Linked DNA regions of Homo sapiens: regions 2, 3, 4, 5 and 6 are each reported to be linked to region 1. The links are microRNA targets in miRTarBase. Many come from high-throughput screens and were not tested one by one. Region 1 holds a microRNA gene; each other region holds the end of a gene's coding sequence. Distances are between the middles of the regions.

Region 1 (5,073 bases):
CGCTTCCGCACGGCGGTGAGGGCTCCTGCCCTTTGGGTGGTGTGTGTGTGCATGTGTGTGTGCTGCACCATGCATGGGCATGCACGCATGAGGCCCTCCAGCTCCGGAGGGAGAACAAGCATGGACTTGGGTGGGAGAGCACGAGCACACGGGATGTCAGTCTGGCTGGTCAGGGGCTGAGCACATGGGCATAGCAGTGACACCTTAGGGTCTGGGTCAGTGCCAGCAAGGTGAGTGGCAGGGCAGTCATGCAGGGTCCCAGACAGGGCTGGGAGTAAGAACTGCCCAGGAAAGCTCATAACTGGAGACCCAGATGTTAGACAGTGACCTCTGGATCAGTCAGTATCTATTTAATGTCTGTCTTCAGCTCCCTGCTGAAGCCACGGGTGGAGAGAGGAGGGCAATATAGAAGCTATGGAAAGTGGAACTGCTGCCCTCATGGAGCCCTGCTTCCTGGGGAGATGAGCCCGAAACCCAGAGAATCAGACTGGGACAGTAGGTCCTGGCCACGGGGTGTCCCCGGCATCCCACTGTCCTGGGACCTGGCAGACCAGGAGGCCCAAACTGACACTGCAAAAAGGCTTGAGTTTAGGGACCTAACTCTGCTGATTTGCTAGCAGTGTGAGCTTGAGCAAGGCACTTAACCCTGGGTTTGTCATGCACTTAGAGTTTACAAGACTCTTTCTGCCATTTACCCTTCCTTCCTCCATGCAATGAGACATTTGGACAAGGGCCTGAAGTCCCTCCAGCACCAATCTTGTATAGTTGTACACAAATCAGCAGAAGACTGTAAGGGTTAAATTAGTAATTCAGAGAACAAGGAGAGCAGTGCAATGTCAAATACCAGGGAAGGCTTTGCCAGGCAAATGCGGCCAAGGGGCCTTTGAAGAGCAGGTGAACTTTCTTTCCCCATCAAGCAGTCTTGATGGGGCTGATCTTGCTAGCCGCCAGTCCTCTCATGGCCTCATCCAGGTGAGCTCTGTAGAGATGGGAAGGCAGGAGGAACAAAGGGCAGAGATGTGTCGTGGTAAGGGTCTGGCTCATGTAGGGGGTTCGTGGTTCTGGGAGGATCGGGTTGGATGAGAACGGAGAAACCAAGTGACAAAGGGCCACATGTGCCTCACCCGAGGCCCTGACCCAGGTCGGCTCGGGCTGTGTGAGTGGACTCAGGTGGGCTGCAGTTGCCTCAGCACCTGGTTTCCTGCTGCCCAGCCCAGCCCTCACCCGGCTCTCCCTCCGTGTCCCCGGGATCAGGTGCGTGACTATGCCTCCTGGGCAGCCCGCGTGCGCCAGGACCTGCAGGTGGAGGAGAGTTCGCAAGAGCCTAGCAGTGGCCCGCTGAAGCTCAGTGCCCACCAGTGGCTCCGGGCGGAGCTGGAGGCCCGGGAGAAGCTGTGGCAGCAGGCCACCCAGCTGGGGCAGCAGGCACTTCTTGCTGCAGGGACACCCACCAAGGAGGTGGGCCCCCTCCCCTGGTGCCCCCACATACCCTAGCTGACCAAGCCTGTGCCTGGCCACCTGGTGCCCCGTCCTACTGTGCCATGCTGGCCTCTCCTCAGGAGCTTCCCTCAGGATCCAGTCCTCACCTCACCCACACCACCCTCCCCAGCTGAGGCTCCTCATGTGTCCATCCCCAGGTCCAGGAAGAGCTTCGAGCCCTGCAGGACCAGCGGGACCAGGTGTATCAGACCTGGGCACGGAAGCAAGAGAGGCTGCAGGCCGAGCAGCAGGAGCAGCTCTTCCTCAGAGAGTGCGGCCGCCTGGAGGAGATCCTCGCGGCCCAGGAGGCAGGTCCCCTCCCGCCCTCACACTCCGCTCAGCCTCCTGCTCCTCCTTTCTATTCTCCTCTCTGCTCAGTCCCTTTCCTCCTGCCTCTCTGGCTTTTTCTCTAATATGAGGCAGCTGTGCACAAGTCCTTCCAGGTGGCCATGGTGAAGTGCTGAGGCCCCTGAGCGTCCACTGACATCCCCAGCCCCTATCCCAGACTGAGCCCCGAGGAAGTTGGCCAGAGGCTGGTCATGCTCCCCACATGGTGCAGAGGTTGAGGTATCGCAGCCTCCCAACCTGGACTCCCACTCCTCACAGCTCCATGCCAAGCTCAGTGGGCACTCCTAAGGCCCTGCCATACCCAGAGTGCCCATGGGCACAGACTGCAGCTGGAGGGGCTGGCTGGCTGGAAGGCTTGGTGGCCTCTGACTTTTCTGTGGATCCAGGTCTCCCTGAAAACCAGTGCCTTGGGGAGCTCGGTGGAAGAGGTAGAGCAGTTGATTCGCAAGCACGAGGTCTTCCTGAAGGTTCTGACTGCCCAGGACAAGAAGGTAATGGAGTCAGGAGGCCTGGGCGTGGTCAGAGTGTGGTGGTTGGGAGAGAGTCCTGAAGGGGGTCACGGGGCGCTTGGTGTGTTCCTGGAGGCAGTGCTGATGAGCCTGCAAGGCTGGGGTCCTGGTTGGGGTTGACTGAGCAAGTTGTATGTGTGGCTCAAGAAGAGGGCCCAGGGGGAGATGGGCCACACTGCAGAGACCCACACGGGGCATTTGGCTCTGTCCACACCGTGTGGTCCTTGGGGAGCAGACTGGTCTGGCTTGTGGCTGGGAGGATCAGATACCCCTCAGCCATGTGGGGCTGAGGAAAGGGCTCCGGGGCCCTCAAAGAAAGGACTGTGAGCCCTGCAGGCCAGGCCCTGCCCCAGCCCAGGGTGGGAGAGCAGCAGCTGTGCCCCTGCCCCACAGGAGGCAGCCCTGCGTGAGCGGCTGAAGACGCTCCGGCGCCCCCGGGTGCGGGACCGGCTTCCCATCCTGCTGCAGCGCCGGATGAGAGTGAAGGAGCTGGCGGAGAGCCGGGGACACGCCCTGCATGCCTCCCTGCTGATGGCCAGCTTCACCCAGGCCGCAACCCAGGTCAGAGGGCACCCCCAGCCCAGGGCCTTCCACTGGAACCACACTCGACAGTTTTCAGCCGCCTTCACACCGCAACACTGTGAGGCGGAAACAGGTTCGGGGGTGGATGGCTTTCCCAGAGGCTGTGCTGGAGCCCAGAACATGGGATCTAAGCCCCTTTGTGTGGAGACCTCACCAGTGTCCCGAGCTCTAGCAGCGCCAGGGCAAGAGAGGTGGGGAAGGGAGCAGAGCAGCCCAGGGCCCCAGGAGTAGGGGCCACACCTCCAAAACGAGAGCCCACCCAAGGCCCTGCCCGGCTGCCTCCTGCAGCAACCTTCCGGAGCTGGAACCTTCAGGGCTCATTTACCAGGTGCTGCCCGCCCCACCCCTGAGGCCAGCCTCCTGGGAATGGCTGGGGGCTAGGCCTGTGGCGTCTGGGGCCTGAGGCTGCAGAACATTGCAGCATTCATGTCCCACCCCCACCAGGCTGAGGACTGGATCCAGGCGTGGGCCCAGCAGCTGAAGGAGCCGGTCCCTCCTGGGGACCTGAGAGATAAGCTGAAGCCCCTGCTGAAACACCAGGCCTTTGAGGCTGAAGTCCAGGCCCATGAGGAGGTCATGACCTCTGTTGCCAAGGTAACAACCGGGCCCTCAGCCCCATGCCTGCCCCAAAGTGTGGCCCAGGGGCAATGTCAGTCTTAGGAGGAAGTGCAGCAGGCAAGATGTCCTGTGTCCCCTCTCTCCCTCCAGAAGGGAGAGGCTCTCCTGGCACAGAGTCACCCTCGAGCCGGAGAGGTCTCCCAGCGGCTGCAGGGCCTGCGGAAGCACTGGGAGGACCTGAGGCAGGCAATGGCCCTCAGGGGCCAGGAGCTGGAGGACAGGCGGAACTTCCTGGAGTTCCTGCAGAGAGTGGACCTTGCAGAGGCCTGGATCCAGGAGAAGGTGTAGCCCCAGCTGGGTGGGGGCTGAGAGATGGGGGGAGGAGCCCTCCCTTGACAGGAGGGATCCCCAGCAGCAGGTGCCAGGAGCCTGGGCTGGTGCTCACAGCGCTCCCTCCCCACCCTCGGCCTTCACAGGAGGTGAAGATGAATGTTGGTGACCTGGGCCAGGACCTGGAGCACTGCCTGCAGCTCCGACGGCGGCTCCGCGAGTTCCGAGGAAACTCGGCCGGGGTAAGAGGGCCTTGCTGGGTAGAGGTTGGCCATGCATCCCGCACTGAAAATCCAACTGAGAGCAGGGAAAGAGTGTGGGCTGTAGAGCAGGGCGTGGGCGCCATGCCTGCTCCTCCTATGCCCTCGGGCAGGCTCCCTCCTCTCACCCGCCTTCACTCCTTCCTCTTTAGAATGGGGGTAGCACCCACCTCAGAGGTAAGAGAGCACGTGTGTGGTGGCAGGTACGTGAATCTCTAGCTGTGATAAAACTGCATAGACCTATCCCCCACTGCCCCGCACAGATGCATACTTGCAAAAACTAATAAAATCTGAATGAGGTCTGGTCTAGTTGGTAGTATTACACCAACGTCAGCTTTGTGGTTTTAATGTTATCATTATATAGGATGCTGCTGTAAGGGAAGCTGGGGAAGGGCACAGGGACCTCTCTGCAGGACTTTGGCAATTTCCTGGGCATCTATAATTATTTCAAAAAATCTTAAAAAGATAGGACATATGCCTGGATGTGGCAGATAATCAGCGCCCACCTTCAGTGTGACTATTTCAGCGTCTCAGCGTCTTCTCACCCCACACCCGCCCCCTCACACATACACACACCAAACATCTATTTCTCTTATGTGGTATACAGGGGAAAAAAATGGCAAATGTATTGACAATCAGGTGTTAAAGACCAAATGTGCTAACCTTGTCCCCCGGTACATGTATGTATTACTTTTTAAGAGGCGGCAGTGCTTAAACCTAAGACATCCCTTGTTAATGGTGGAATTTCACAGACGCTGTGCCAGATGCTGCAGTAGGAAGAGAGCTAGACTCCAAAGGAGCTGGGCTTGAATCCTGGCTCTGCCGCAAAGGAGCCAGGTTAGCCTCTGAGCTCTGCTCCGGCATCTATAAAAGGAGGGGAATGTCCTTCCCTGCCTACCTTGCAAATGAGGCACTTCATAGGAAAGTGCTTTGGAAATTTAAACAAGCTCTACAGAAGCCAGAGGCAGGAGATCTGCAATCACACCCTGCGGTGGACCCCCTCCCTG
Region 2 (5,073 bases), not on the chromosome of region 1:
TCACCTACAAACTCTCACACGCCCTAGAAGATGGAGGGGACCATCACCACCATCACCACTCGGCTGAGGGGTGGGTCGGAGGCAAAGCCAAGGATCCAGGGCGCAAAGCCTCGGGCAGCTCTAGTGGACGTATAAAACCCAGACTCAACAAAATCCGATTCAGAACCCAGATCGTCCACACCACACCCTCTTTCAGGGACCCAGAGCAGCCGCTGGAGGGCAGGGGGGAGGAGGGAGTGGGGGAGGAACGACCTGTTAAAGGCCACTCGCCCTTCACATTGAGACCAAAGTCCAATGTATTTGGGTAAAAATTGCTTCTTTTAGAAAATGCAAAGGTTTATTTGTCTTAATAAATTGAATACTAGGTGTTGTAAGGAAGTGAGACCAGAAGGACAAGCTAAATTATGCATTCTTACTTGAGGGATCGGAATGGATGGGGCGGAGTTCTCTTCAGGCTAGCCTTCTGGGAAAAGTGGATGTCTTTTTCAGAGATTCATCATACCTTGACCTGTACCTCTTCTCTGCCCTCCACTTCCCTGCCCTGGAGTCCGTTTCTGGAGACTAGAAATGTATCTAAATTGGGGGAACAGAATGAATGAATTAATGAATGAGAGTTCCTTTGCTTTAACCATTCCTGGATGCCTGCAAAGTAAGGAATAATGCAGTTTTTATGTATCTGATTTTATAAGGGGTTACTCTTTCAAGAGTAACAAAAAAATGCAAACTGTAATGAAACTACATTGTATTTCTAAGTGTGAAAACGACAGGCTGCCCCGTTTTTACTAATTGCATTTGCATTTTAAGGTACTACTGAAGGTCAGATCAAAGTTGAAATGCAAAAATACTAATTAGAGAATAATGTGAATAAAATGGGAATCTTCTTGGTATTTTATGTGTATTGTAAGTAGCAGTTAAATTATTTTTTTAAAAGCAATTTCAGTTTTAATCACTGAACAAAAGAAACAGGCAACATTCACTTCTGTAGTATGGTTTCCACCTATCTCTAACACCACTATTAAGGTACACCAGTGTTAAGGTACATTAATAACTACACAAAATTTTATTTAAAGAGAACACTTAGCAGCCTATGATAGTTTTCAATAAAATGTTGCCTCTCTTTCGGATTCTCACTAACTTTTGTTACTATTCTAAAAGTTTGAATTTGCTGGGGTGTTTATTCTGAGGATTATTTAACCATTGTTCTATTTGGCATAACCCTATTTAATGGTGCTTAGAGCTGAATTACCTACAGAAACTGTTTCTGGTTTAAATAATTAGCACAAATTGGCCTAAGTATTCATGAGCCCATGTTTCTGTGAAGTAATTATTAAACCAACTTAATGATTCTTATGTAAGGTACACTTTTTATTTTAATACATTGGTAGTCTCTATGACTTGTAGCAATGTTTTACAAATGTTTAAAATGCTAAACTTAATTTTCCAAGCTTTTCTTGACAATTAGATACCTATCCTGTAGTTACTGAAAATCTGGGTAGTAAATCTACCCAATTAAAATGGCACTTTATAAAAGGGAATAGAGAAGAGATGGGACTATTTCTATATTTAAATGCTGCTGGCTATTCCTTTGTATATAAATGAAAAATACCATTCATTAAAATTAAGTACTCGTTTAAGTATGGTTCTTAATTACATTTCATTCATTTATATTAGAGTAAATGGCTTCATAACTACTTTAAAATTTAACCCACAAGCATATTAAATCTGTTTGTTATAAGATTGGAAACAATTTTTGAGAGGGACTAATTTAAACAAGTCCTCCTTTAGTCTTTTGGGTCGCGTAGTTGCTGAAACCTAAGTACCTGCAGCCTACAGGATAAGGAAGTTCACAGCCTGCGGGGTGAATGAACCCATGTGTGAACTGCACAGAGCAATTCATAGAAAATGCATAGAAATTTGTAACACTTTGGTCACATCTGTCTCTAGATGGTCATTGAATTTGTTTAAAGATGGATGAAAGGCCAGGCATGGTGGCTCATGCCTGTAATCCCAGCACTTTGGGAGGCCGAGGCAGGTGGATCACTTGAGGCCAGGAGTTTGAAACCAGCCTGGCCAACATGGTGAAAACCTGTCTCTACTAAAAATACAAAAATTAGCCGAGCGTGGTGGTGCGTGCCTGTAGTCCCAGCTACTTAGGAGGCTGAGGCATGAGAATCACTTAAACCTGAGAGGTGGAGGTTGCAGTTGAGCCAAGATCACGACACTGCACTCCAGCCTGGGCAACGGAGACTCTGTCTCAAAAAAAAAAAAAAAAAAGATGAATGAAAATATGAAATATATAAACTAGTATCCATTTATTTGCATTTATTGTGGGATTTCAGATATGAACGGTGTAAATTTGAGAAGCACTTATGCATACATGTGGGTGAAAAACCAATCTAATTTTGTATAAATAAAAACAGGCTCCTGGAAGGTGAAAAGTAGTCATTTGTTCTAAATCTATACATATTACTTGTATCTAGTGCAGAATAAGCTATAACATCCCATTGAGGAATCTTAAATTTCATAGACATGTAAAGCTGAAGTAACTCTAAAGAGCAGATGCTTCAGAACCATCAGAAGGTTCTGGTCAACAGTCAGTATTATCTCTTAAATGTATATGTTGGTCACTAATTGCACAAAATCTATAATTTGCCAGGGCTTTAGAGATTGAGTCAATATGTCATTTACCATGGTTTTCCCACTGAAGGCTTTAACTTTTCTGATAAAATAATATTTTAAATTTTCAAAAACCCATTCCTGAGGAGAACTACTTCTAGCATTCCTTTTCATGATGTGCTTTTGTGCAGTAAGTAGCATTTTCGGCTACTTAACTTTACATTCCTCTTATTTTTCAGTTTCCAGTCAAGATTATAAAAAGCAAATGATTGATATAATTTGATATTCATAGAGTTGTGCCTACCTTTAATGGAAAAATACATGTCAGATACTTAGATGTTTATTGATATGAGACTATGTGGTTAAAAAACCCAAGTATGTCCATGTGTTTCTTATAAGGTACACTTGAAACTAGTGAGTGTTTGTCACATTTCACTTTCATGGTATATAAAATGCAGTTTGCATATATAACTTGAATATCTGGTACTAGTTTTTTCACGCCTGCAATCTTGGAGTCTAGGTTGCCTTGTCTCTCCTATTTTTAAATAAGTGAAATTTGGGAGATTGTAAAATCTGTAAAGTTTGTTTTGTGAAAATAAAATGTTCACAGTAGAATTTTTCTCTGAATTGTCTAAGTTTCTGTCGTCCTTTAGACTTTTTACATATACTGTGTTTTACAGTTCACAAAATGCTTTTTGAAGTTTCAGTTTATTTGACCCTTTTCCTATCCCTTAAGATTATGGGCCATATATTGTTGACTTACAGATAAGAAAATAGAGGTTAATGGTTGTTCAGGGTCACACAGTAAAAAGCTGTTAGTAAGATTATAAGAGTCAGGGCTTTCCCACAACGTTATCTTTTCTGCACATTGAATTGCCACATTTTTAGCAAAACTGCTGTAGTTTGGCACCAGTGATGGAGGAATCAACTTGGAGAGAAGGTAATACCTCCACCACTACCTAAAAAAAAGCTGTATGGGTTTTGCACACACCATCTGCCATAAACCTGCCCTACCCAGGGCTGACTTCAAGACAGGTGTAGGAATACCGTTTTTCATTTTTCAGCCTCTGTGAAGCATTGAGAGTTAATTACCTCATCAAGGCTTCCTGTGATCTGTATTTTTAGCAAAATTCAACTCTGTTGAATGGCAAAGGGATGTGGTACTCCTTTGGTGTAATCGCCCACTATTGCTCTATCCGGGAGATCCCACTGTGATGGCTGCTGGGGTTATTCTTGTTTTATGATAACCCATAAAATATTTTTCAGGATCACTGAAAGACTAGATAAGTAGTTTGTTTTTCTAGAATAACTTCTTTCCTTAGAAGTACATGTCTTAAAAGGATTTATTAACCAGTTCACTTAAAGATATTTTTGAAATTTTCCTAGTAAAAATTATTTTTATTTTGCTAAGTAAATAGCATTATTTGGAGTTTCTTACATGATTAATTCCAGGATTAAATACTTGGAATTTGCTGTAAACCAGTATTCCTTCAATGATCACCCAAGTCTTCATAAATCACTGAATATTAGAGGGTTGGAAGATGACTCTACAGAAACTTGTTTCTCAAGATACAGAAGTCATGTGGTTCACATAACTACCTGCTTTTTCCATGAAGAACACTATACTTTTTTTCTCAATCTTCTCTTTAAATGTCAGTTTCATCTCAGTAAGTAGCTTTCCTATTCTGTTAACTAATAGCCTATTTTTCCACATCGATGCATTGGTAAGGAATGTGTGACAAATGTTCTACCCTTGCACAGTGCCTGGCATGTTGAAGGTACTCAGTAAGGGTCTTTTAATGGAAAACATTAAATATTTTATAATGTTACATAATATGGATAATTCAATTACATGCATTCATGCTATGTGAATAGTTTTTTTATATAACATGGCTCTTAAATACCAGCCTATCAGTTCATCTGCAGCTCAGCCAAAAGAACAGCAAGTTATTCCAATCCTGAAGATAAAATCAGCTTTATTAGAACTGTACTTCGTGAGCGATTTAAGAGATTTTCAAGAGTAAATTTGATTATAAGAAAATTTTGCTGGGCGTGGTGGCTCACGCATGTAATCCCAGCACTTTGGGAGGCCGAGGCAGGAGCATCGCCTGAGGTCAGGAGTTCAAGACCAGCCTGGCCAACATGGTGAAACCCAGTCTCTACAAAAAATACACAAATTAGCTGAGCATGGTGGTGCATGCCTGTAATCCCAGCTACTTGGGAGGCTAAGGCAGGAGAATCACTTGAACCCGGGAGGCGGAGGTTGCAGTGAGCTGAGATTGTGCCACTGCACTCCAGCCTGGGCATCACAGCGACTCTGTCTCAAAAAAAAAATAGAAAGAAAGAAAGTTTCCTTACAAGCTGACTCAAGTCCAAGACCTGTAGGAGAAATTATTCTAATTGGCCTTAAATAGTCTAAGTACTGTCAGGTATACAAATGACTACTTATTCTGTGAA
Region 3 (5,073 bases), not on the chromosome of region 1:
TTTTGTATTTTTAGTAGAGAAGGGGTTTCACCTTGTTAGCCAGGATGGTCTCCATCTCCTGACCTCATGATCTGCCCGCTTCGGCCTCCCAAAGTGCTGGGATTACAGGCGTGAGCCACCGCGCCTGGCAATTTTTGTATTTTTAATAGAGACGGGGTTTCACCATGTTGGCTAGGATGGTCTCCATCTCCTGACCTTGGGATTTGCCCGCCTCGGCCTCCCAGAGTGTTGGGATTACAGGTGTGAGCCACCGCGCTCGGCCGAGCTTATTCTTAAAATACAGTAAAAACTTTAAGCTCTCTTTTAAGGTTCTTGTGGCTTGTTGCAGGAGATAGAAGAAAGGTGAGAAGCAGGCAGTAAATGGAAGCAGAAAGAGACACAAAGTTGTGACCACTAGGTTGTGACATGTTTGGGTTTTTTCACTTGAGCTGTATACTTCTTTGGTATTTCACGCCCTAGCCTGGTCCTTAGATTATGTCTTCTCAGGTCTTCTCCCAGTGCACACAGCAACAACAGACTGACCTGAACACCTCCGCCCACACACACCAAGCCTGGGCAAGGGGAAGGTAAAACTACCCACTTTGGGCCTACATGCAGTGAGGCCTTTCAGATACTGATAAAACATTGTTGCCCCCTCATGTGGCCAATGCTGGAAATACAGCTGAGACACGTATTCCAGGGCAGTGTAGCAGCCTCAGCAACTGGGAATTTGTTAGAAATGCATATCTCGGGATCCATCCTGACCTACTAAATCAGAATTTTGCTGGACCCTACCCCCAATCTGTCTGTTTTTTCTTTTTGTTTTGTTTTTGTTTTTTGAGATGGAGATGGAGTCTGGCTCTGTCACCCAAGCTGAAGTGCAGTGGTGTGATCTCTGCTCACTGCAACCTCCACTTCCCGGGTTCAAGTGATTCTCCTGCTTTAGTCTCCCAAGTAGCTGGGATTACAGGCGCGAGCCACCATGCCTGACTAATTTTTGTATTTTTAGTAGAGATGGGATTTCACCATGTTGGCCAGGCTGGTCACAAACTCCTCACCTCAGGTGATCCATCCGCCTTGGCCTCTCAAAGTGCTGGGATTACAGGCATAAGCCACTGCATCCAACCCAAATTTGTTTTTTTTTTTCTTTCTTTTTTTTTTTTTTTTTTTTGAGACCAAGTTTCGCTCTTGTTACCCAGACTGGAGTGCAATGGTGCGATCTCGGCTCACCACGACCTCCACCTCCCGGGTTCAAGCAATTCTCCTGCCTCGGCCTCCCGAGTAGCTGGGATTACAGGCATGCGCCACCACGCCCGGCTAATTTTTGTATTTTTAGTGGAGACGGGGGTTCTCCATGTTGGTCAGGCTGGTCTCGAACTCCTGACCTCCTGATCTACCCGCCTTGGCCTCCCAAAGTGCTGGGTTTACAGGTATGAGCCACTGCACCCGGCCCCAGATTTGTTTTCTAATAAGCTCTTCAGATGATCCTGATGAATGCTAACAGACTTGAAAACCGCCATTCTCAACCCACATGTTAAAACATGTTAATATCTTCAACTGCCCCATATCTGCCACACACACTCCCCCCAGAGTGATGTATCCTTTCTTTTTTTTTTCAGATGGAGTTTCACTCTTGTTGCCCAGGCTGGAGTGCAGTGGTGCAGTCTGCAACCTCTGCCTCCTGGGTTCAAGCGATTCTCCTGCCTTCCGAGTAGCTGGGATAACAGGCGCCAGTAACCACACCCAGCTAATTTTTGTATTTTTAGTAGAGATGGGGTTTCTTCATGTTGGCCAGGCTGGTCTCGAACTTCTGACCTCAGGTGATCCAACTGCTTCGGCCTCCCAAGGTGCTGGGATTACAGGCGTGAGCCACCACGCCCAGCTTTAATTTCTGGTTTAAGAGTGGAGGCCAGGCGCGGAAATGGGGAAATGGAGTTTCCCTATGTTGCTTAGGGTAGTTTTGAACTCCTGGGTTCAAGTGATCGTCCCATGTGGGCCTCCCAAAGTGCTGGGATTACAGGCGTGAGCCAACATGCCCAGCTTTAATTTCTGGTTTAAGAAGAGTGGAGGCCAGGCGCGGAAATGGGGAAATGGAGCTTCCCTATGTTGCTTAGGGTAGTTTTGAACTCCTGGGTTCAAGTGATCCTCCCATGTTGGCGTCCCAAAGTGCTCGGATTACTGGCTTGAGCCACCATGCCTGGCCAGAGCCACTTTGGGAAGAGCAGTCTATACTTACCCTTTGTTTTTTTGTGACGGAATTTTGCCCTGTCACTCAGGCTGGAGTGCAGTGGCATGATCTCGGCCCACTGCAACCTGCACCTCCTGGGTTTAAGGGATTCTCCCGCCTCAGCCTCCGGAGTAGCTGGGTTATAGGCACCCAGCTAATGTTTGTATTTTTAGTAGAGACGGGGTTTTGTCATGTTGGCCAGGCTGGTCTCCAACTCCTGACCTCAGGTGATCCACCCACCTCGCCTTCCCAAAGTGATGGGATTACAGGCATGACCCAATATGCCTGGCTTTTTTTTTTTTTTTTTTTTTTTGAGACAGGGTCTTGCTCTGTTGCTCCGGCTGGATTGCAGTGGTACAATCATAGCTGTGAGTTTGAACTCCCAGGCTCAAGTGATCCTCTCGCCTCAGCCTCCCAGGTAGCTGGAACTAAAGGCATGTGCCACCATGCCTAATATTTTTTGTATTTTTTGTACAGACCTGGTCTCCCTATGTTGCTCAGGCTGGTCTCAAACTCCTGGGCTCAAGTAGTCTTCCCACCTCGGCCTCCCAAAAGTGCTGGGATTACAGACATGAGCCACTGATACCCAACACTAACCTGGCTAAGGTCACCCAGGCTGTAGAGAGGTAGAGCTGGGACAATGGCCTTTATCTGACTCCAGCATCCTCAGGATTTCCTCCCTTATCTGTAGAATGTGGATAAGATGACCAAGAACACATCCTAGAGGGCACGATAGCCAGGATAGGACTGTTCTAGGAACACACACGAGGCGTGTTAAAGAAGACTCAGAAAGATGAAAACCAGGAAAGAGCCCTGTGGCCGAGATCTACTCTGTATCCTAGAGTATTTTATGTACTTTTTGAAGCATTTTTTCACCAGTACTTAATAGCAACTGTTAGATCAAGCATTAGCTCCAGAGGAGTAAAAATCAGATTCCACAGATTTGTACTAATGTATCTAACACAGGTGGTAATGGCTTTTAAAAAAAAAAAAATGAAAAACAGTCCAGGCCGGGCGCGGTGGCTCACGCCTGTAATCCCAGCGCTTTGGGAGGCCGTGGCGGGCAGATCACGAGGTCAGGAGTTCCAGACCAGCCTGGCCAACATGGTGAAACCAAGTCTCTACTAAAAATACAAAAAAATTAGCCAGGCATGGTGGCAGGTGCCTGGAATCCCAGCTACTCAGAAGACTGAGGCAGAAGAATCCCTTGAACCCAGGAGGCAGAGATTGCAGTAAGCCAAGACTGCACCACTGCATTCTAGCCCAGGCAACGGAGCGAGACTCCGTCTCAAAAAAGTCCAAACACACTAGGGGTTAAATAAGCTGCTTCTCTTTCCACTGTTTATTATTAATGTACAAAATATACAAAACCAAAAAAAAAAATACTCATCCTCAAATCCATTTTGGCTCTAACCCAAGACCCTGCACAAAACCCAACCAATCCACTGTTTTCATAGAAAACAACTGATGCCAAAGTGAAGGAGAGAACTGGGAAAGGGCAAAATCATCTTGTTGAATCCACCCAGGAAGGCGCCTGGTGGGGATTCAGAGGTGGTTGACAGGGTGAAGTACCTGGAAGCCTCCTTCACGCTGGCAAGGTTCCAGGTGGGAGCAGGGAGTGAGCTGACTCCCAAAGGCAGTGCATGTAGTGTGACTTTCAGGCCCAGCACGCCGGGCCCAAGTTGATGAGAAGCTGGTCTCACTGAAGTATTTTATCAAGTCTCCAGACTGGCTATAGTTGGCAAAGGCAGACCAGCACCACCGGTCTCACCTCTGCCAGCTAAAACTTGCACCGGATGCAGATACGAGTTCGCCATCATCGAACCTAGCAGACCCAGGACGCAGACTGGGTGTTCACAGAAAGTTGAAGGTCCCACTTGAGAAAGGACTAAGAATGGTGAGCCCACGCTGGGGGAGGGGTGGGGATGATGTGTGTTCCAGAACTCAAATCCAGCTGATTGAGCCCTCTCAGTGCAGTGGGATATACAATACCCCTTTCAGCATCTCCCCACCCCATGAGGAATAATGAACTTAGCTGGGATGATTTCTTAAGTGCAGCTGATCCTGTGTCAGAGTTCTGTGTGCATGTGGGGACCCGCAATAGAAGGGTAGGGGTGTTCGCCAGGATAACCAGCTTTAGGTTCTCAAGCATTAAGGGTAATACTGGAAAGGGGTTTGGGGTACAGGGCGAATCTTCTCAAAAAGTGAAGCCAACTGGGTCTCCTCTTCAGCAGTCCAGGAACGTTTCCAGTCTCTCTCCTCCCCAGACTGGAGGAAAATATGTACATCAATGCGCACCAGTGATCAGAAAACCCCCAGGAACCCAAGCAAGTGGGAACTGAGGGGGCCGGCTCCTCATCAGCTGGGGAAAAGGGAAAATGGGCCTCACAGAAGCCATAACAGGGTGGAAAGAGCGAGGCTGCAGTCCACAGGGGTTGTGTGAACAGGGCAGGCAAATGGTCCCTAGGGCAGGGGGGGCCCATTGACACCCGGGTGGTAGAAGGCACAGTTGTTCTCATAGCGGCAGTTGCCCTTCATCATGAAATGTCGGCAGACAGGGCGGTTTGACATGTCTGTGGGAACGATGGCAAAACAGTTAGACAGGAAATAGCTGAGGGCAATGCCACCCTCACCACCCCTTGTCCATGACATCCTGAGAACTGTCTTTCAGAGACAATCTTGGGGATTTGGGGGAAGGGCATAGAGTAGGAACTGCTATGCATACTAGGACATCAAAGAGACGGGTACCTCACGTTCTGCCTAGCTACCAACAGTAGTGACTCTCACCCACTCCCCAAAAGCTTGTATGGGACAACCAAAAGGCATATGGGGGACAGGGAGCATCCTCACCTCCTCCATGGCTGTGG
Region 4 (5,073 bases), not on the chromosome of region 1:
ACATCAGAGGACACATACTGGAGAAAAACCCTTCTTTTGTACTATTTGTGGCAAAAGCTTCAGCCAGAAATCTGTGTTAACAACACACCAAAGAATCCACCTGGGAGGCAAACCCTACTTGTGTGGAGAGTGTGGTGAGGACTTCAGTGAACACAGGCGGTACCTGGCGCACCGGAAGACGCACGCTGCTGAGGAACTCTACCTCTGCAGCGAGTGCGGGCGCTGCTTCACCCACAGCGCAGCGTTCGCCAAGCACTTGAGAGGACACGCCTCAGTGAGGCCCTGCCGATGCAACGAATGTGGGAAGAGCTTCAGTCGCAGGGACCACCTCGTCAGGCATCAGAGAACACACACTGGGGAGAAACCATTCACGTGCCCTACCTGTGGAAAAAGCTTCAGCAGAGGATATCACTTAATTAGGCATCAGAGGACCCACTCAGAAAAGACCTCCTAGCTAGGTCCCCATGTGAGGAGATCTGCTTTCAGCCCTCACCTAAGGGAGGTGAGGAAGAGGAAAAGCCCTCTTGTCAGCCTGGGAAGACCTTTTCGAGGGAGTCTCCCTGACCTGCTCAGATCTGACATTACCTCTTCCTGCAACTAAACACGAGCCTGGGCAGAACCTCTCAGCCTTCCTCTACGCCTTGAGGGGATGTTTCATCCAAAGTACAACCTGAATTGAGGCTTCTCCTTCACTGGAGTGCACCTGCCTCTACCTCATGGGTATAAAGTAGGAGAACTAAGAGACTTAAGAGGTCGTGGTTCCTATATCGTCCAAAAAATAGGCTGTTACATATCCTAAAGACTGCTCAACAGCTTCAAGTTGAAAGTGGCCAAGGACAGCCCCTTAGGTTTGGGAAGGGACGAGCCTGAAGGATTCTGTCTTTACTGGGGTCAAATCTTAAAGCACACAGCTCTGGACTCAAGACAGGAGGTTTGCGTCCTGATGGCTTTGCCACACATTCACAGGATAACTGCATAGATCCCTCGCTGTCTGATTCACTTCTTACCATGCACTTTCCTTTGATGCTGAGGAGAAATGGAAGTGGGCGAAAAATCTCAAGGCTGCTTCATGTGGACCTTGTCAAGCTGCTCCCTCCCCCAGCGTCAAATTGTTATCAGGTGCCAAACACTGCTAGAAAGGAGGGCCTAGTCAGAAGCCTCTTTCCATACGAGTTTTGGTTTTGTTTTTAATATTTTTTTCTATTAAAATACTCATGCATTTAACCTTCCCGTTATTCAACCAGTCTCTTGGTTGCATCCCTAGCACTTCTACTACAAGTGAGATGGTAGTGTTTGAGTGCTTATTGAGTAAAGCATAATTCGGTCATAATGAAATCGTTCACATTCCCTCATATGCACAAGCCCACCAACCCCTTCACACCCCCCTTCACAGGGGTCGTATGAGTAAGGGGATTTGGAAACTGTCAACTTACAAAGGCACTATAACAATTACAGAATCATGATTGCCATGGGCCACTTTATTTACATGAAGACAACTGGAGAACGACTAAGACCAAATTATGGAAAATAAGAAAAAGCTGTTGCTGGCAAGACCATCAAGACTGTTCTGACACCCTGTCCCCATCATCCCTGACTGAGTACTCTGACATCACGGAAAGTGTTGAACCTGGGACCCTGAGGAATTCACCAGGAGTAAATGGCTTTCATGTATTTGTGTTGTTTGCTTTTTCTTACGTGATTTTATGTTCATAGAGCTAGAAAGTAGCATCTCATGATGGCCCAACAATCTCTGTTGCCAGTTAAAGGTTCCTTGGAGATGAGGCTGAATAATTATGAACCTCACCTTCTCTGATTGTGGGAGTGGCAAGAACTGGGGAGACGTCCTCCATAAGTGGAGCACAGGGTATGGGGTTAAAGCATGACAGGGAGAGTCTTCTGTGCCTGGTTTCTTCTCCTCTATCTCATAATGCATTATGGGCCCGAGGAATAGGGGAGGGTTAATAAGACTCCAACCCTAATGGCCCAACAGGGAAATTCTCATTTTGGTCGATGATATTCTGATGGACTGGTTTGGTCTTAATACCAGTCAACCGTTGTCCTTCTGGAAATATACATATATGAAATAAATAAAGGTAACACTTGCAGCCAAGTTCCCTGGTTTCTGGGACTTCCCATCTTACCCATTCCTTTTCCAGGGCTTCAGTGTCCTGATACTTCTGAGGGTGGTTCATACTCAAATAGATCTGGGAGTACAGAGTATTTTTCCTTGAGGAAAGGAAGGGTTGGGATGATTAGCAGAGTCCGGTGAAACATATGCACTCTGAGATAAGATCCAAGCCTGGAGTTTGCAGAAGATACTGTCCTAATAAGCAGGCATTTCTAAACCAAGTATCTAAGCCTAAGCACAGCTTGTCCTGGGTGAAATGTCTGCCACAAAAGATAGTTTCTCCTAGCTCAGACTTAACCATTTATAAAGGTTGGTAAAATACTGGCAGTGACAACAAATTGACTTTTTAATTTTCTTATTTGCATTATTCCAATAAATGAAAATCTGTCAGAGTTCTACATGAGGGAAAGCTTGTGAGGCTGGGCCGGTTTGTTGGAACATCAAATAGTCCTTAATTACTGATCTCCCTGCAGAGTTTCATATGCTGACACTAAATCTCTGGTCCCTTTTGTAAATTACTGAATTTTCTGAGGTTCTGGGAGGGACATGTTGTCTCCCAAATCTGAACAAACACAACCACAGTGTGCAGCGGCAGGAAAGAAGTAGTGCAGCTGAGCGTGAGCAGGGAGGTTGGAGCACAGGGTGTGTATTCGGAGGGGTCCCCTCTAGTATCTTGTGAGCAGTAGAATTCTAGCATCCTTGAATACCATACTAAGTTTCTGAGGGAGAAAACGGTGGGATTTTAAAGATATTATTTGGAGGAAGTTAATACGCTACTTAATTAACAGAAGTGGCAGGTGGTTGGAAATGTGCTAAAGAGGTATGACACATTAAAAATGATAATATAAGGATGTTTGACCAGATAATTTAGGAATAACCAAGGAATATTTAACCTCTTCACCACAAAGTCCGAGGAGAAATAAATGCCCAAGAGATCAAGCCAAAATACATTTTTATTATCTGGGACTTAGGCCTCATATTCCGGAGCAGAATCCGGTAAACTCAGATGAACTCCATGGAGAATTTCATAAATCAGATTAACATCAAGGTACTAAAATCAAAACCCACTAAGAAACCTGTTGCCCCCTTCAAAGCACAACTGAAGTAATGGATCTAATAGAAGATACATTGTTTGCACTGAGCAGTAGAGTAGTAGAGGAGAAAAGCCCAGAGATGGCACAGACAAGTTGTTCCAGTCCCCTTCAGTCAAGGCCTCTGGACCACCACCCTGCCACAGGCGAAAAATGGGATATTTAATAAATAAAAAATTTTGATTCACCAGACTGGCTGAAAGGACAGTAATCCAAATGAGAGTTAACGGCTCCATAGTAGTTTTCTAGAATGAAAGCTGAACTGAGAAATAGTAACTGATGACATGTTGAGCAGGTTAATAATTTGGTACCCTTCCACACCAGTATTTGTTTGTTTGTTTGTTTTGAGATGGAGTCTCGCTCTGTCGCCCAGGCTGGAGTGCAGTGGCGTGATCTCGGCTCACTGCAAGCTCCGCCTCCCGGGTTCACGCCATTCTCCTGCCTCAGCCTCCCCAGGAAGCTGGGACTACAGGCACCCACCACCACGCCCGGCTGATTTTCTGTAATTTTGGTAGAGACGGGGTTTCACCATGTTAGCCAGGATGGTCTCGATCTCCTGACCTTGTGATCCGCCTGCCTTGGCCTCCCAAAGTGCTGGGATTGCAAGCGTGAGCCACCGCACCTGGCCCCACACCAGTATTTTTAAAAATAGTTTGTTTTACCTCTAGCGTCTTCCCTCAGCTGACCTAAATAGTCCAGCCACAATAGCTGAGAGAAATATACCTACAATTATTTCCATCTCCTTATATTTCTAGTGATGTTGGCTGACTAACCCACTAATCTAGTTTATGGGAGAGGGAAAGACTGAAAGAGCCACAAAGTGGATGGCCAACCCACGTGATTACTAACCTTTATTGTGGCAAAGTAACTGATACAATGTTTCAAATGTAAGCACATCTCCTTGGAATAAGTGGAATAACTTAATTCATCCTTGCGGAAGTCCTGAGGATCAAGCAAGGAGGAGCCCAGCTTTCTTTAGACACCACCTTTTTTATCTTTAATAACAAAAAGGAACAAAGTGATTGTCAGACCAGCACAAAGATACCTCTTAATGTGCAATTTCTATTCTCTTTAGTGTGTGTGAGTGCACGCATGCACGTGTGTACACCGAGGTTTCAGGTAGAAGGAGGAATGCAATTCAAATTCTAAAAAAGGAATCAGTCAGCACAAACTAGTTTATTTGGCAATTCATAAAGATAGGGACTCTTCAGAGGAGGTTGAGAGCATTGTAGGGTTATGTAAAGACTTCCAGAAGCTGTAAAGACTTCCAGAAGCAAGAAGATTCAACCATCTAAAACGCCATGCAGGAAAATAGCCAAACCTTCTCCATTTAAGTAGAGAATAAATCTTAGTAGCGTTCTCTGCAGAATATAACAACGCTGCAAAAAGGCCATTTCACAGGAATATAATCAAAACTGCAGATTCTCAGGGTTTCCCGTAAGACGACTTCTCTGCTCTTCTGTTTGTGGTTTCTTTTTTAGTTGTACATCTCTCCTAGACAAGTCCAAGGAACTACTAACGAGAAGATTTCAGGAAGAGGCCTACAGCAATTGCTTGGTGCTTGGGTTCATTTGCGGAATCTTGGCAACAGGTCTACAGAGAAGCAGTTCCACGGCAAAAGAGCTGTGGGGCAGTTGAATAATCCATCCAAACAATGAGGAGTAAACCCTGAGTCAAGAAACCAGCAAAAAGCAGAAGACTGGGTCAGCAAATAAAGGGAGAAGATCCTTGCCTCCTTCAGTGCCCCTAGCATGATATTCTGAAAGGCCCTCCACTAAAATACAACTACAGTTTTAATAAATTACTAAAATAGAGAATAGAAGTAGTATGTAAGTTGGGATAGGGTGATCTGAA
Region 5 (5,073 bases), not on the chromosome of region 1:
CTTCCTATAACTACGGCAATGAGGATCAGGCAGAATTCCTCTGTGTTGTCTCCAGAGAACTAAATAATTCTACCAATGGCATCGTCATAGAGCCGAGCGAAAAGGCGAAGGTAAGGAGCCCCTTCCCTGGGCAGTTGCCTCTGGCTTGCTTGTTCGCACCCCCTCCGTGGGCTTTTCCTGAACTCTTGCTCCTCACTTCTTCCCTGGCCTTCTAGAGCCAGCGTTGCATTTTCCCCTCGTTTTGTTATTTTTGACTGTTGTAATTTAATTGGGATTTACGGAGCACTGACAGGTGTTTTTAGTTAGAAAATATGAACCTAAAAAGGGTAGACTTTCTCCATCCTCTGCCAAATCAATGAAAAAGAAAAGCTGGTTGCCACTAATTACTACAGGGTAGGATTTCTGAACTCAGACTTGGAAGGTATTTTGATTTATTCTTTAAAACTGTGCTTTTTTCACTGCCTCAGGAGAAAAGGGTGTTTTCTTACCTTGGTGACCTTTACCTCCCTTAAGTTCCTGGAAAACTGTTTCTTTTCCCTCCACTGTGCACCCCCCTCACCCCCAACACACACACACACACACACACACACACACACACACACACACACAGCTTCTAAATCGTGGATACCAGGTAAGCTGGAACCACTTCCTTTCAGTTGGCAAAGCTTTGGTCCAACAGCATATAAGCTTTAGACCCAGCTGTGCCCAGCAAGAGAGTGTTTCGCACCAGAAGCACTGCGGGTGAGGCTGCGGCTGCACCCCTGCTTGCTTCCTGGGATGACAGGACCATCATGCCACTCATCGGGTCCAGTGGAAAGCATCCCCCGACATCTCTGTCTTTCCCTCAGCAGCCTCAGCCTCTCCCCCATCTCCAACTTTCAGATTCTTCAGGAGAGAGGATCGCGGATGTAAACTAAGACCCCGAAAACTCCAGACCTTCAGGAGAGCAGTCAGCAGAGCCCCTCTGTGAAGTGAAACCTCACTCCTGTCCAGTGACCGAGCCACTGCAAAGCACAGCTGATCCTGGCCCCCTGTGAAGAAGTGTTCTGGTCAAAACTAAAGGAACTCCCTCCCCACCTGCAGGACTCCGAAGACAGTGCGACTTCTGGCTGCAGAATACCTTTTCAGAAACCTGCTTTCATTTGCTTAGCCAGTATTAGAACAGATCTTTACAACAGCAGCTGGGCTGGGTTCCCAGTCGGAGCCTTTCGGGGATCTGGGGGATGAGGGCGGAAGGCCTAGCTCCTTGGAAATGGCCTGTACTTTAAGGACGCTGGAGCCAAGAGGATTGTTCCCGTGCCGTGCCATGGTTTCACCCTATGTGTGCCACAATGGACGTTAGCAGCTGCTTCGGAACACCGTCCCTCCTATGCACCCTCCAAGACGTGCAGCAGATGCAAAGGGTTCTAGCTGCAGTTTGTCGAATTGAGGTTTTAGGTAAAGCATAGAGTTGCCAGAGTACCCCGCATTCCCATGAATAGAGCCTCCAAGGAAAGGGAGGATGGGGTGTCCTTTGTTGTGGTTGGAGGTTGGTGATCATTGCTCTGGATTTGGGGCTCCCGGCTGCCACCACATGCAGCTTTGCCTCACCTTTCTCCAGCAGCCGGGACCCTCTGGAGAGCTTGTTTTCCCTCCAAGAAGAGGTTTGAGACAGGCGGCATCCTGCACTGAGTCAGACAAGTGGGAGCTGTAGGAACTGCACCTGCAGCCTCTTCTTACTCCCCATTGACCCTGTCTTCCTTCCCTGGCTTTTTCAACTGGACCAAAGATGAAGGCACTTATGGACCCTTTGATGGCTTGGAGTGGGGAAGGCTGTTTCTTTGAAAGTTGCCAAATGTGTTATGTTGTGTCTCAGAGAGAGTTATTTCTGTGACTCTCTTGGAAATGCCTTGACTGAATGTGCAATATTTGTGTCTCTTGGTTTCTAACCTTGGCGGACCTGCTCCCCTCTGTACTGTCCCCAGTGGTATGTATGTATGTGCTAGGCAGTCTGGGGACCCCCTGTGTCTCTGACCACCCCCCTGACCCCCGCCATTACTTTCTTTTCTGGAGTGCCATGCTGGCGAGGATCCGGATGCGGCAGCACCCTCTTTCGGGCTGCATCCACAGAGTTTGTGTCCACACTTTCTCTCCGAGCATGTGGGTCTCGCTGAGCAGTCATGGAATGCGGTAGAGCCAGGGGACCCTGTCTGCCCCGAATAACTTTCAGTAGTATGGCAGATGGCACAGAGAAAGGGAAGGGGCTCTGGGGACTTCTCCTTCTATGAAAGCCTCCTCGAGCCAGGTGCTCCTGGGCACCTTCAGAAGTGATGTCCTGTGTGCTCCACAGCTCACCTGCTTGCCAAGGTACGTCTGGGTAGTAGTTTCTGGAAATGACTGCAGACTGTGCCAAATGTCTTTTGAGCTTCTGACCTGACCATGCCCAGATGGCATAACTTTTCCCTAGGACCCTCAGTCTCCTTGTTTCTCTGTATCTGTAGCATAGCATAGAACCCGGTATACAGGGGTTTCTGCTGACACATCAACGTCTACACACCTATGCGCCACATTTTACAGCTGTAAAGTGTTAGATGAACTGCCGTCCTCAGTAAAAGCAGCCACCCCTTCAAGAGTCACAGGCATCCATCCAGTCGTATCTTTCAGAGAAAAAAAAAGTTAGATGTAGCCAAGGAAAGTAGTGATCACGGGAAGGACTGCTCTGAGCCGGGTAGGATGGAGGACTTTGGAAGAGGCGCTCCTTGGCCAGGTCCAATGAGTAACATCAGACTGACAGAGGAAAAGCAGCTTGGTTTGCGGCCTTGTGCCCAGTCTCGTTGAGGCGCTTGTCCCTGTCTGCTTTCCTGGGGCATGCCTGATCAGCGTGGGCTGGAGCTCCTAGACCAACCCCAGCTTTCTCACCAGGTTCAGCAAGGAGGCCTGGGGGTCAGACACCAATGTTGAGCACCTCCTGAGGGCGCCGTTTCCTTCATTCCTCTTAGATTCCATAGTTGCCGCCATGAAAAGACTGCTCTTGAGCCCCAAGGCACAGGCACGTGCTCTGGGAAATAGACAGGAGTGGTATTTCCGCCCTCTCGGAGGGCTGGTGTTCACCAAGTTTCCCTCCTCGCTGCAACCCAATGACACCTGTATTGTTCCAGCGCTCCAGGACTCTGGGTTCTTAAGATTTCTGGGAGCGTTGTTCACCCACCCCCTTTAGGAACCAGGCTGGTGTTCTTGCTTGAAAGCGTTGTGCCCTCTGAGTGTCTGGCTGATCACATCAGAGAGGTCTGCGTGGCAGTTTGGGGCTGTCACGTGACCAGTGACCCACACTCTCTGCTGCCCAGTACTGCCAAGTGGGGAGGGTCCTGCCTTTTTCTCTGCCCCAGGTCTGGGACGCAGGTGATGCCAGCCAGGCCCAGGAGTGCCCAGCATCCCCCAACTGATGACACAGTAGCACTGATTCTGTCTTTTCCTCAGAATCTGGCCTTTTTCCATGGCAATGAGGTGGGGCCCAGCCTCCTCTAAAGTGACTTTGTTTCTGCACAGTTGTAACTGCTCTTGGGGATGTCAGTGAGGCTGGGAGCAGGGAGCCACGGGATGCTGAGAGAGGAGGCCCGAGAGGACACCCCACCCTCCAGCGTGGCCTTTGATCCAGACTTAGGGACGAGGCTGTCACTGGTGGGCACCCTCTGTTCCTGTTTGTGTGTTTGAATAGTCTGAAATGCTGTGACTTTTTTTGTGTGAATAAAGATATGAAACTTCTGAATCTCAAGAACTGTGGTGTGTTTTCCATTACTGCAGTCTCCTGGTTCCCACTGTCACTTCCTGTCGATGGTTCTCACATGGGTTTCAGGAGATGACTTAACTACCTTTCCTACCAGGACAGCTGACTAAGTCCTTTTCTCCTGCTACTGAAACCACCAAAGGGGGTGTTGGGCCTTCTCCCTCCTCCCTTTCATTTTACTGAATCTGAAAAGACCCAGAGAATGCAGAGAAACAGAAGGTGGGACGGATGGGCTGCCCACCAGAGAGCTGGAAAGAGACAAGGGGAGGAGTGTGAGATTTTTTTTTTTTTTTTTTTTCCCCGAGATGGAGTCTCGCTCTGTCACCCAGGCTAGAGTGTAGTGGTGCAATCTCGGCTCACTGCAACCTCTGCCTCCCATGTTCAAGCAATTCTCCCTCGGCTTCCTGAGTAGCTGGGATTACAGGCGCCTGCCTGCGCGCCTGGCTAATTTTTGTATTTTTAGTAGAGACAGTATTTTGCTGTGTTGGCCAGGCTGGTCTCGAACTCCGACCTCAGGTGATCCTCCCGCCTCAGCCCCCCAAAGTGCTGGGGTTACAGGCATGAGCCACCATCCCCGGCCGTGAGATGGTTTTTAAGGGACAAGTCTTTCTGGAAGAGAGTGAGTGACTAGGTACAAGGAAGAGGATGAGTGAGGAACGTTTGGTGACAACCAACAAACAAGTATTGATCACTTCAGCATCAGGCGGGGCATGGGAAACTCAGAAGGTGTTAGTCCCTTCCAGACAGCACTTTCAGGTAGGGAGACAAAATGGACTCATACAGCTTAGTGAACAGGATGCGTGGGTGCATCCGTCAGGGTCCAATTGAGACCACAGCAGTTGTTAACTGGTAGTGGAGAAAGGAAAGGGCAGGAGTGGACACTGAGGCATCACAATGTAGGGATTGCAGGGTGCAGTCCTCACTCCTGGGACCTGAGAACAGTGGGAAGACATTGGGATTATTAAAGTGGAGATTTGGCCGGGCGCGGTGGCTCACACCTGTAATCTCAGCTCTTTGGGAGGCCAAGGCAGGCGGATCACCTGAGGTCAGGAGTTCGAAACCAGCCTGACTAACGTGGAGAAACCCCATCTCTACTAAAAAATACAAAATTAGCCGGACCAGCTACTCGGGAGGCTGAGGCAGGAGAATCACTTGAACCTGAGAGGTGGAGGTTGTGGTGAGCCGAGAGCACGCCATTGCACTCCAGCCTGGGCAACAAGAGCAAAACTCCGCCTCAAAAAAATAAAAGGGCTGGGCGCAGTGGCTCACGCCTGTAATCCCAGCACTTTGGGACGCCGAGGCGAGCGGAT
Region 6 (5,073 bases), 41 Mb from region 1:
CTTTTACTTAATAATTCAAAATAGTCAAAGGAATAAATTACCATACCATTTTTGTACAATTGAATAGATTTCACTTTAATTTGGAACTATTCTATTGGTTATATAGTCTGCCTATGTCTCTGTAAAGTGTACCTAGTATAATACTGGAAGAATGATTTCAATCTTAGGAAAGTTTTGAATAACTGGCACTATAACATTCTATTGTGAAAAATGTTTTTTAGTCTTATTTATTGTGTATTAGAATGAGAAACCAGAAGCACTGCTATGGGTTTGTCATATGTTTTTTTTAACAAGGGAAGTTTAAAGATCTTTTTTGTTTTATTGTTGTAGGTTGCAAGACAACAGACAGTTCAGAGGCAGGGACAACAGATGGGGGTGGCCAAGTGACAATCGATCCAATCAGTGGCATGGACGATCCTGGGGTAACAACTACCCGCAACACAGACAAGAACCTTACTATCCCCAGCAATATGGACATTATGGTTACAACCAGCGGCCTCCTTACGGTTACTACTGATAGAAATGTTGGCAGCTTTTAGTAAAAGCATTTACTCTGTTACCATGAGAAAAGTTTGGGTGTCTTCTGTTGGTCATAGTTTTACATCTGATTTTACAGAATGGATTATTGATTTTTTGGAAGTTGAGACTTTAAAAAAAATAGATCTTACTTGCGAAATGCGATGGTTGCTGGGAATACCTGAAACTGTGGATTATATTGCTTGACTTCTACCTCAGAATCTTCTTTGTTTCATGACTTAATAGTGCTTTAAGTTTGGTATATTATTTGACCTCTAGGAATTCTTTGTTTTACACAGAAATAAAAATTTTAAAATAGAAAATGCTTTTACTTTGTAAGGTAAGAGAGTATCCATATGCTTAGATGTGCTCGTTTCTAAAATTCTAGAGGTTGATATAATCAGCTCATGAATGCACAGCTATGCTTTTTGTGATAGATTGTACATAACATCAGCAGTTGAAAGGTAAAACAATTGCTTTTTTTTTTTTTTGCATTTGTTAAGTGACTATGGTACTTTGTGATTCCTTAATCTATAGATGAGTCAGCTCCACACTTGAGTCTCTTTTTAGAGGGAAATCAGTAATAAAGCTGTAAAATAAGGAAGGAATCATTGTCAGTTTGTGTCTTGATCTGGTGGTGGTTGGGATAAGGGTACACATCATTTTATACAAACACTAAAGCTTTTTGCTAACAACATAGCAGGTCAAAATTCACACATAAGAAAGTTTAACTCTGTACTGTTCACACTTTTTAATCCTGTAAATAATGCTGCATTTTGATGGTTCTTACTTTTTTGGTATTTAATGTGGGCTGATTTTACAATGTTATATTCACTTCCAGATGCATACCTCTGCTGCTTTCTCTCCTATAAATAGTGATGCTATAAACTTCCTTTCACAGAGATCATTCTATTTCAAATCACTTTAATGATTATTACAATGATTTCATTCAAATAAAAATTTTAAAATATTTAAGCATCTTCACTCCCAAGTTCTGGCAGTTAGCCCATTTATTAATATGGTGAAATGAGATTTTTGGGTTTTTTTATGCTGTCCTTCATATCTGTTGAAAAGGGCTTATTTGGTTTAACAGTAACATTAAGAGTGCAAATTTCAACATAGGTCAAAGGAATTAACAGGCACCTTCCTGACTTTATTAGAGTGACAAAAAAATATATATATTTAAAAAGGCGTCTTCCAGCCAGGCATGGTGGCTCATGCCTGTAGTCCCAGCACTTTGGGAGGCTGTGGGCGGATCACTTGGGGTCAGGAGTTCGAGACCAGCCTGACCAACATGATGAGACCCCGTCTCTACTAAAAATACAAAAATTAGCCGGGTGTGGTGGCACATGCCTGTAATCCCAGCTACTCGGGAGGCTGAGGCAGGACAATTGTTTGAAGCCCAGAGGCGGAAGTTGCAGTGAGCCAAGATCGTGCCACTGCACTCCAGCCTGGGCAACAGAGCAAGACTTCATCTCATAAAAAAAACGGGGGCATCTTCGTAAACCTATTTTTAATGCCTTCTCTCTTAGCACCCCACTCTAGGCCCTCGAGGTTGACTTCTCCAGGTACTTCATGCTCTCCATCTACCTCTCCCTTTTATTCTCCCTTCCTGAAGAGCCATCCTCTCGGGTAACTGTTTTATTGGAAATGACCTAATAAGTCGGGCAGTCACACTAAGATGCAAATACAATTTTAATAGTAAGGGTTTTCCCTGTAACCTCCCTAATTACATCAGTAGGCAAGAAGCCAGTGCTGTTATATAAAGATAGGATTTGATACTACAGATATTTAGTCTAGATAGTAATGTCCTGACTACACCCCAGAATCTTCTCTGAAAGCAGAAGTGTTATCAAAAATATCACCTGGTTGGGTATGGTGGCTCACACCTGTTATCCCAGCACTCTGGGAGGCCGAGGCGGGAAGATCACTTGAAGCCAGGAGTTCGAGGCCAGCCTGGGCAATGTAGCAAGATCCTGTCTCTACAGAAAATTTTAAAATTAGCTGGGTGTGGTGGTGCACGCCTGTAGTCCTAGCTACTCAGGAGGCTGAGGCAGGAGGCTCCCTTGAGTCCGGGAAGAGTTCAAGACTACAGTGAGCTAGGATCATGGCACTGTACTCCAGTTTGGGCTAGATAGATGCTGTCTCTTAAAAGTAATGATTTATAGGCTGGGCACGGTGGCTCACAGTTGTAATCGCAGCACTTTGGGGGGCTGAGATGGGCAGATCACCCCAGGTGAGGAGTTCGAGACCAGCCTGGCCAATATGGTGAAATCCTGTCTCTATTAAAAATACGAAAATTAGCCAGGCATGGTGGCGGATGCCTGTAATCCCAGTTACTCGGGAGACTGAGTTAAGAGAATCACTTGAACCTGGGAGGTGGAGGTGGCAGTGACCTGAGACCATGCCATTGCACTCCAGCCTGGGCAACAAGAGCGAAACTCTCTCAAAGAAAAAAAAAAAGATTTATAAAATCATCTCCTGAGAAAGCACAGGCACTGACCAGTAGTTGGGACAGTATAGCTGACTGTAGCTTTAGGTCAGGATTCTGTGCTGTGCCAGCTGTTGACACAAAGGGAGATGTATGGGTCCAAGGCCAGCGCTGGAGGAGTACTTCTCAGGAAGCTCAGAAGAGAGGTGGTTTTCCAACAGTATTTAAATGTTTTAACACCCAACACAGCTAGGCTGCTTGTGTCCTGAGTATCAGCCGTGCTTGAAAAAATGGGAGGAAACCTTTTAACATGAGTAAATTCTGCATGCTGCATGAATAATCTATGTTGTTATGGTTTTTGTTTTTTAACAGCAGTTACTATCAGACTGTACCCCTGCCCCTGATCTGCTTAAAACCAGGAAGAAATAAAAGGTACAGTTTCTGCTTCATAAGACAGAAAATAACATGAAAAAAAGCTTAAAGATAATTTAAGAGTGAGAGCAAATAAAATAGTGTCAAATAGAATTAATTTCAAGTAGTCTGTTGTAATAACATATGGCATTAGGTATAAGGAATCCTAGCTTCCAGTTCTGTGCTTAAAACATATGTGACCGTGAGAAAATCATGTAAACACTGAGCTTATTGGCTCAGCTGTAAAAATGGGGACAATACCCACCCTGCCACCCTCACAGAATTATAAAAATAAATAATCAAAGGAAGAACTTGAGAATATAGAGTTGTGACCATTAAATCCCTAGTAGGACACAATAGGTGCTGCATAAACATTTGTTGAATCAACGGGAGGGAAGTATTTGGTAAATTGTAAAGCGTAGTGTTGACATAAAGGATGTAGAGTAACGGGCAGAAGATGAGGTAGGGCAGAAGACGTTGAGAATTAAGGATTTGTGATTGTTTCCTTATGTTAATTCATATGTGAATTAGCAAAGGAAAGCAAGTTATCTCATTCAGAAAATAAACACTTCAAATGTGGAAGATGGTTTGTATAAAAGTTGAGCTAAAATTAGTAGCATTTGGCCAGGCTCAGTGGCTCATGCTAGTAATCTCAGCACTTTGGGTGGCCAAGGAGGTGGACCATCTGAGGTCAGGAGTTCGAGACCAGCCTAGCCAACATGGCAAAAACCCCGTCTCTATGAAAAATACAAAAATTAGCCAAGCATGGTGGTGCAGTCCCAGCTACTAGGGAGGCTGAGGCTGGAGAATCGCTTGAACCTGGGAGGTGGAGGTTACAGTGAGCCGAGATTGTGCCACTGCACTCCAGCCTAAGTGACAGGGCAAGACTCCATCTCAAAAATAAATAAATACATAAATTAAAATAAAATTACTAACATTTGCCATTTGGAAATTAGTAGTGAATTTAGAATGTCAAATGTTAATTACTGAACACATCAGATTAATGTCCTTTTGAGAACAGGATGCTGGGGACTTTTAGAGTTTTTTGTTTGTGTTTTGTTTTTGAGTGCTAGGTGGACTTGGGGTTATACAGAATGTAATAAACTTGAGTCACTGCTCTGAGAATAGTTTTGGGGTTCTTGAAACCACATAGGAAAAAGACATCTGGGGAGATTTCTAGCATGGTTTTTGTTTCCAAAGCCACTTTCCTTATAATGCTCAACAGACAAATAGGTAATTATCCCTTGTATTTTATTCACCTAAAGAAAAATGTAGGACTTTATAATAGAATTAAGGGTAATAAAATGTCAGCTTTAAGTTTAGAATGTTAAAATTGAAGGAAATAATCATTTACCCTGAATCAGGTTATTGACAGCACTAATTTTGAACTCTCATAAAAGAACTCTACTTGTTTCCTAAATATAATGTTTTTTAAAAATTTTATTTATTTTAAACAAGTTCAAGCCAAACCGAAATACAATTTTTTATACCTTAAAAATTTCCCTAGACTTCCTATTTCATTTGATTCATTCAATCCAAACACAGATCTGGCTGTGTATGGAAAACTATGCCGTAGACTGTTGACTTCTTCTAATTAGCACAATAATCTACAGTGAAAAGGATTTTTTTTAAATTAGGCAATATAGGAAATAAATACTCCCAGTTTAAGGTGGCCTCTATTATTATTGGACTTTAGTTAGCTGGAAATGTTAGTT

The links. The annotated mature microRNA hsa-miR-4310 reads GCAGCAUUCAUGUCCC and lies in region 1 at 3,336-3,351, shown strand. An mRNA with a match to its seed (bases 2 to 7 or 8) in the 3' UTR can be bound and repressed. Matches are read on the target gene's strand: a 7mer-m8 pairs with bases 2 to 8, a 7mer-A1 pairs with bases 2 to 7 and ends in A, and an 8mer does both.
Region 2: the mRNA of SOWAHC is a reported target of hsa-miR-4310. Seed matches in the 3' UTR shown: 7mer-m8 at 1,567-1,573.
Region 3: miRTarBase lists PPP1R10 as a target of hsa-miR-4310. Seed matches in the 3' UTR shown: 7mer-A1 at 4,204-4,210.
Region 4: miRTarBase lists ZNF202 as a target of hsa-miR-4310. Seed matches in the 3' UTR shown: 7mer-A1 at 1,024-1,030.
Region 5: miRTarBase lists KCTD2 as a target of hsa-miR-4310. Seed matches in the 3' UTR shown: 7mer-A1 at 3,577-3,583 and 7mer-m8 at 3,700-3,706.
Region 6: the mRNA of RAMAC is a reported target of hsa-miR-4310. Seed matches in the 3' UTR shown: 7mer-m8 at 1,282-1,288.

What each region holds. Positions count from the first base shown.
Region 1 is chr15:41,864,783-41,869,855 of GRCh38, reverse strand. It overlaps MIR4310 (microRNA 4310), which reads left to right and starts at 3,305; the gene lies at 3,305-3,361. SPTBN5 (spectrin beta, non-erythrocytic 5) reads left to right here. Exons shown (of 68, transcript NM_016642.4): 32 at 1-15; 33 at 1,255-1,458; 34 at 1,638-1,787; 35 at 2,214-2,318; 36 at 2,730-2,897; 37 at 3,363-3,512; 38 at 3,627-3,818; 39 at 3,953-4,048. RefSeq lists a silencer at 1-102.
Region 2 is chr2:109,615,760-109,620,832 of GRCh38, forward strand. SOWAHC (sosondowah ankyrin repeat domain family member C) reads left to right here. Exons shown (of 1, transcript NM_023016.4): 1 at 1-3,231. The coding sequence ends at 308. It also overlaps a transcript of RANBP2 not described here. Among named protein-coding and RNA genes, the nearest start is that of SOWAHC, 3.9 kb to the left of the region's middle.
Region 3 is chr6:30,596,880-30,601,952 of GRCh38, forward strand. PPP1R10 (protein phosphatase 1 regulatory subunit 10) reads right to left here. Exons shown (of 20, transcript NM_002714.4): 19 at 5,057-5,073; 20 at 3,534-4,779. The coding sequence ends at 4,670. Among named protein-coding and RNA genes, the nearest start is that of MIR877, 15 kb to the left of the region's middle.
Region 4 is chr11:123,721,378-123,726,450 of GRCh38, reverse strand. It overlaps ZNF202 (zinc finger protein 202), which reads left to right. Exons shown (of 9, transcript NM_003455.4): 9 at 1-2,537. The coding sequence ends at 454. Among named protein-coding and RNA genes, the nearest start is that of ZNF202, 18 kb to the left of the region's middle.
Region 5 is chr17:75,062,136-75,067,208 of GRCh38, forward strand. KCTD2 (potassium channel tetramerization domain containing 2) reads left to right here. Exons shown (of 6, transcript NM_015353.3): 5 at 1-110; 6 at 883-3,751. The coding sequence ends at 912. Among named protein-coding and RNA genes, the nearest start is that of KCTD2, 17 kb to the left of the region's middle.
Region 6 is chr15:82,989,551-82,994,623 of GRCh38, forward strand. RAMAC (RNA guanine-7 methyltransferase activating subunit) reads left to right here. Exons shown (of 4, transcript NM_031452.4): 4 at 331-1,507. The coding sequence ends at 517. It also overlaps a transcript of C15orf40 not described here. Among named protein-coding and RNA genes, the nearest start is that of RAMAC, 5.9 kb to the left of the region's middle.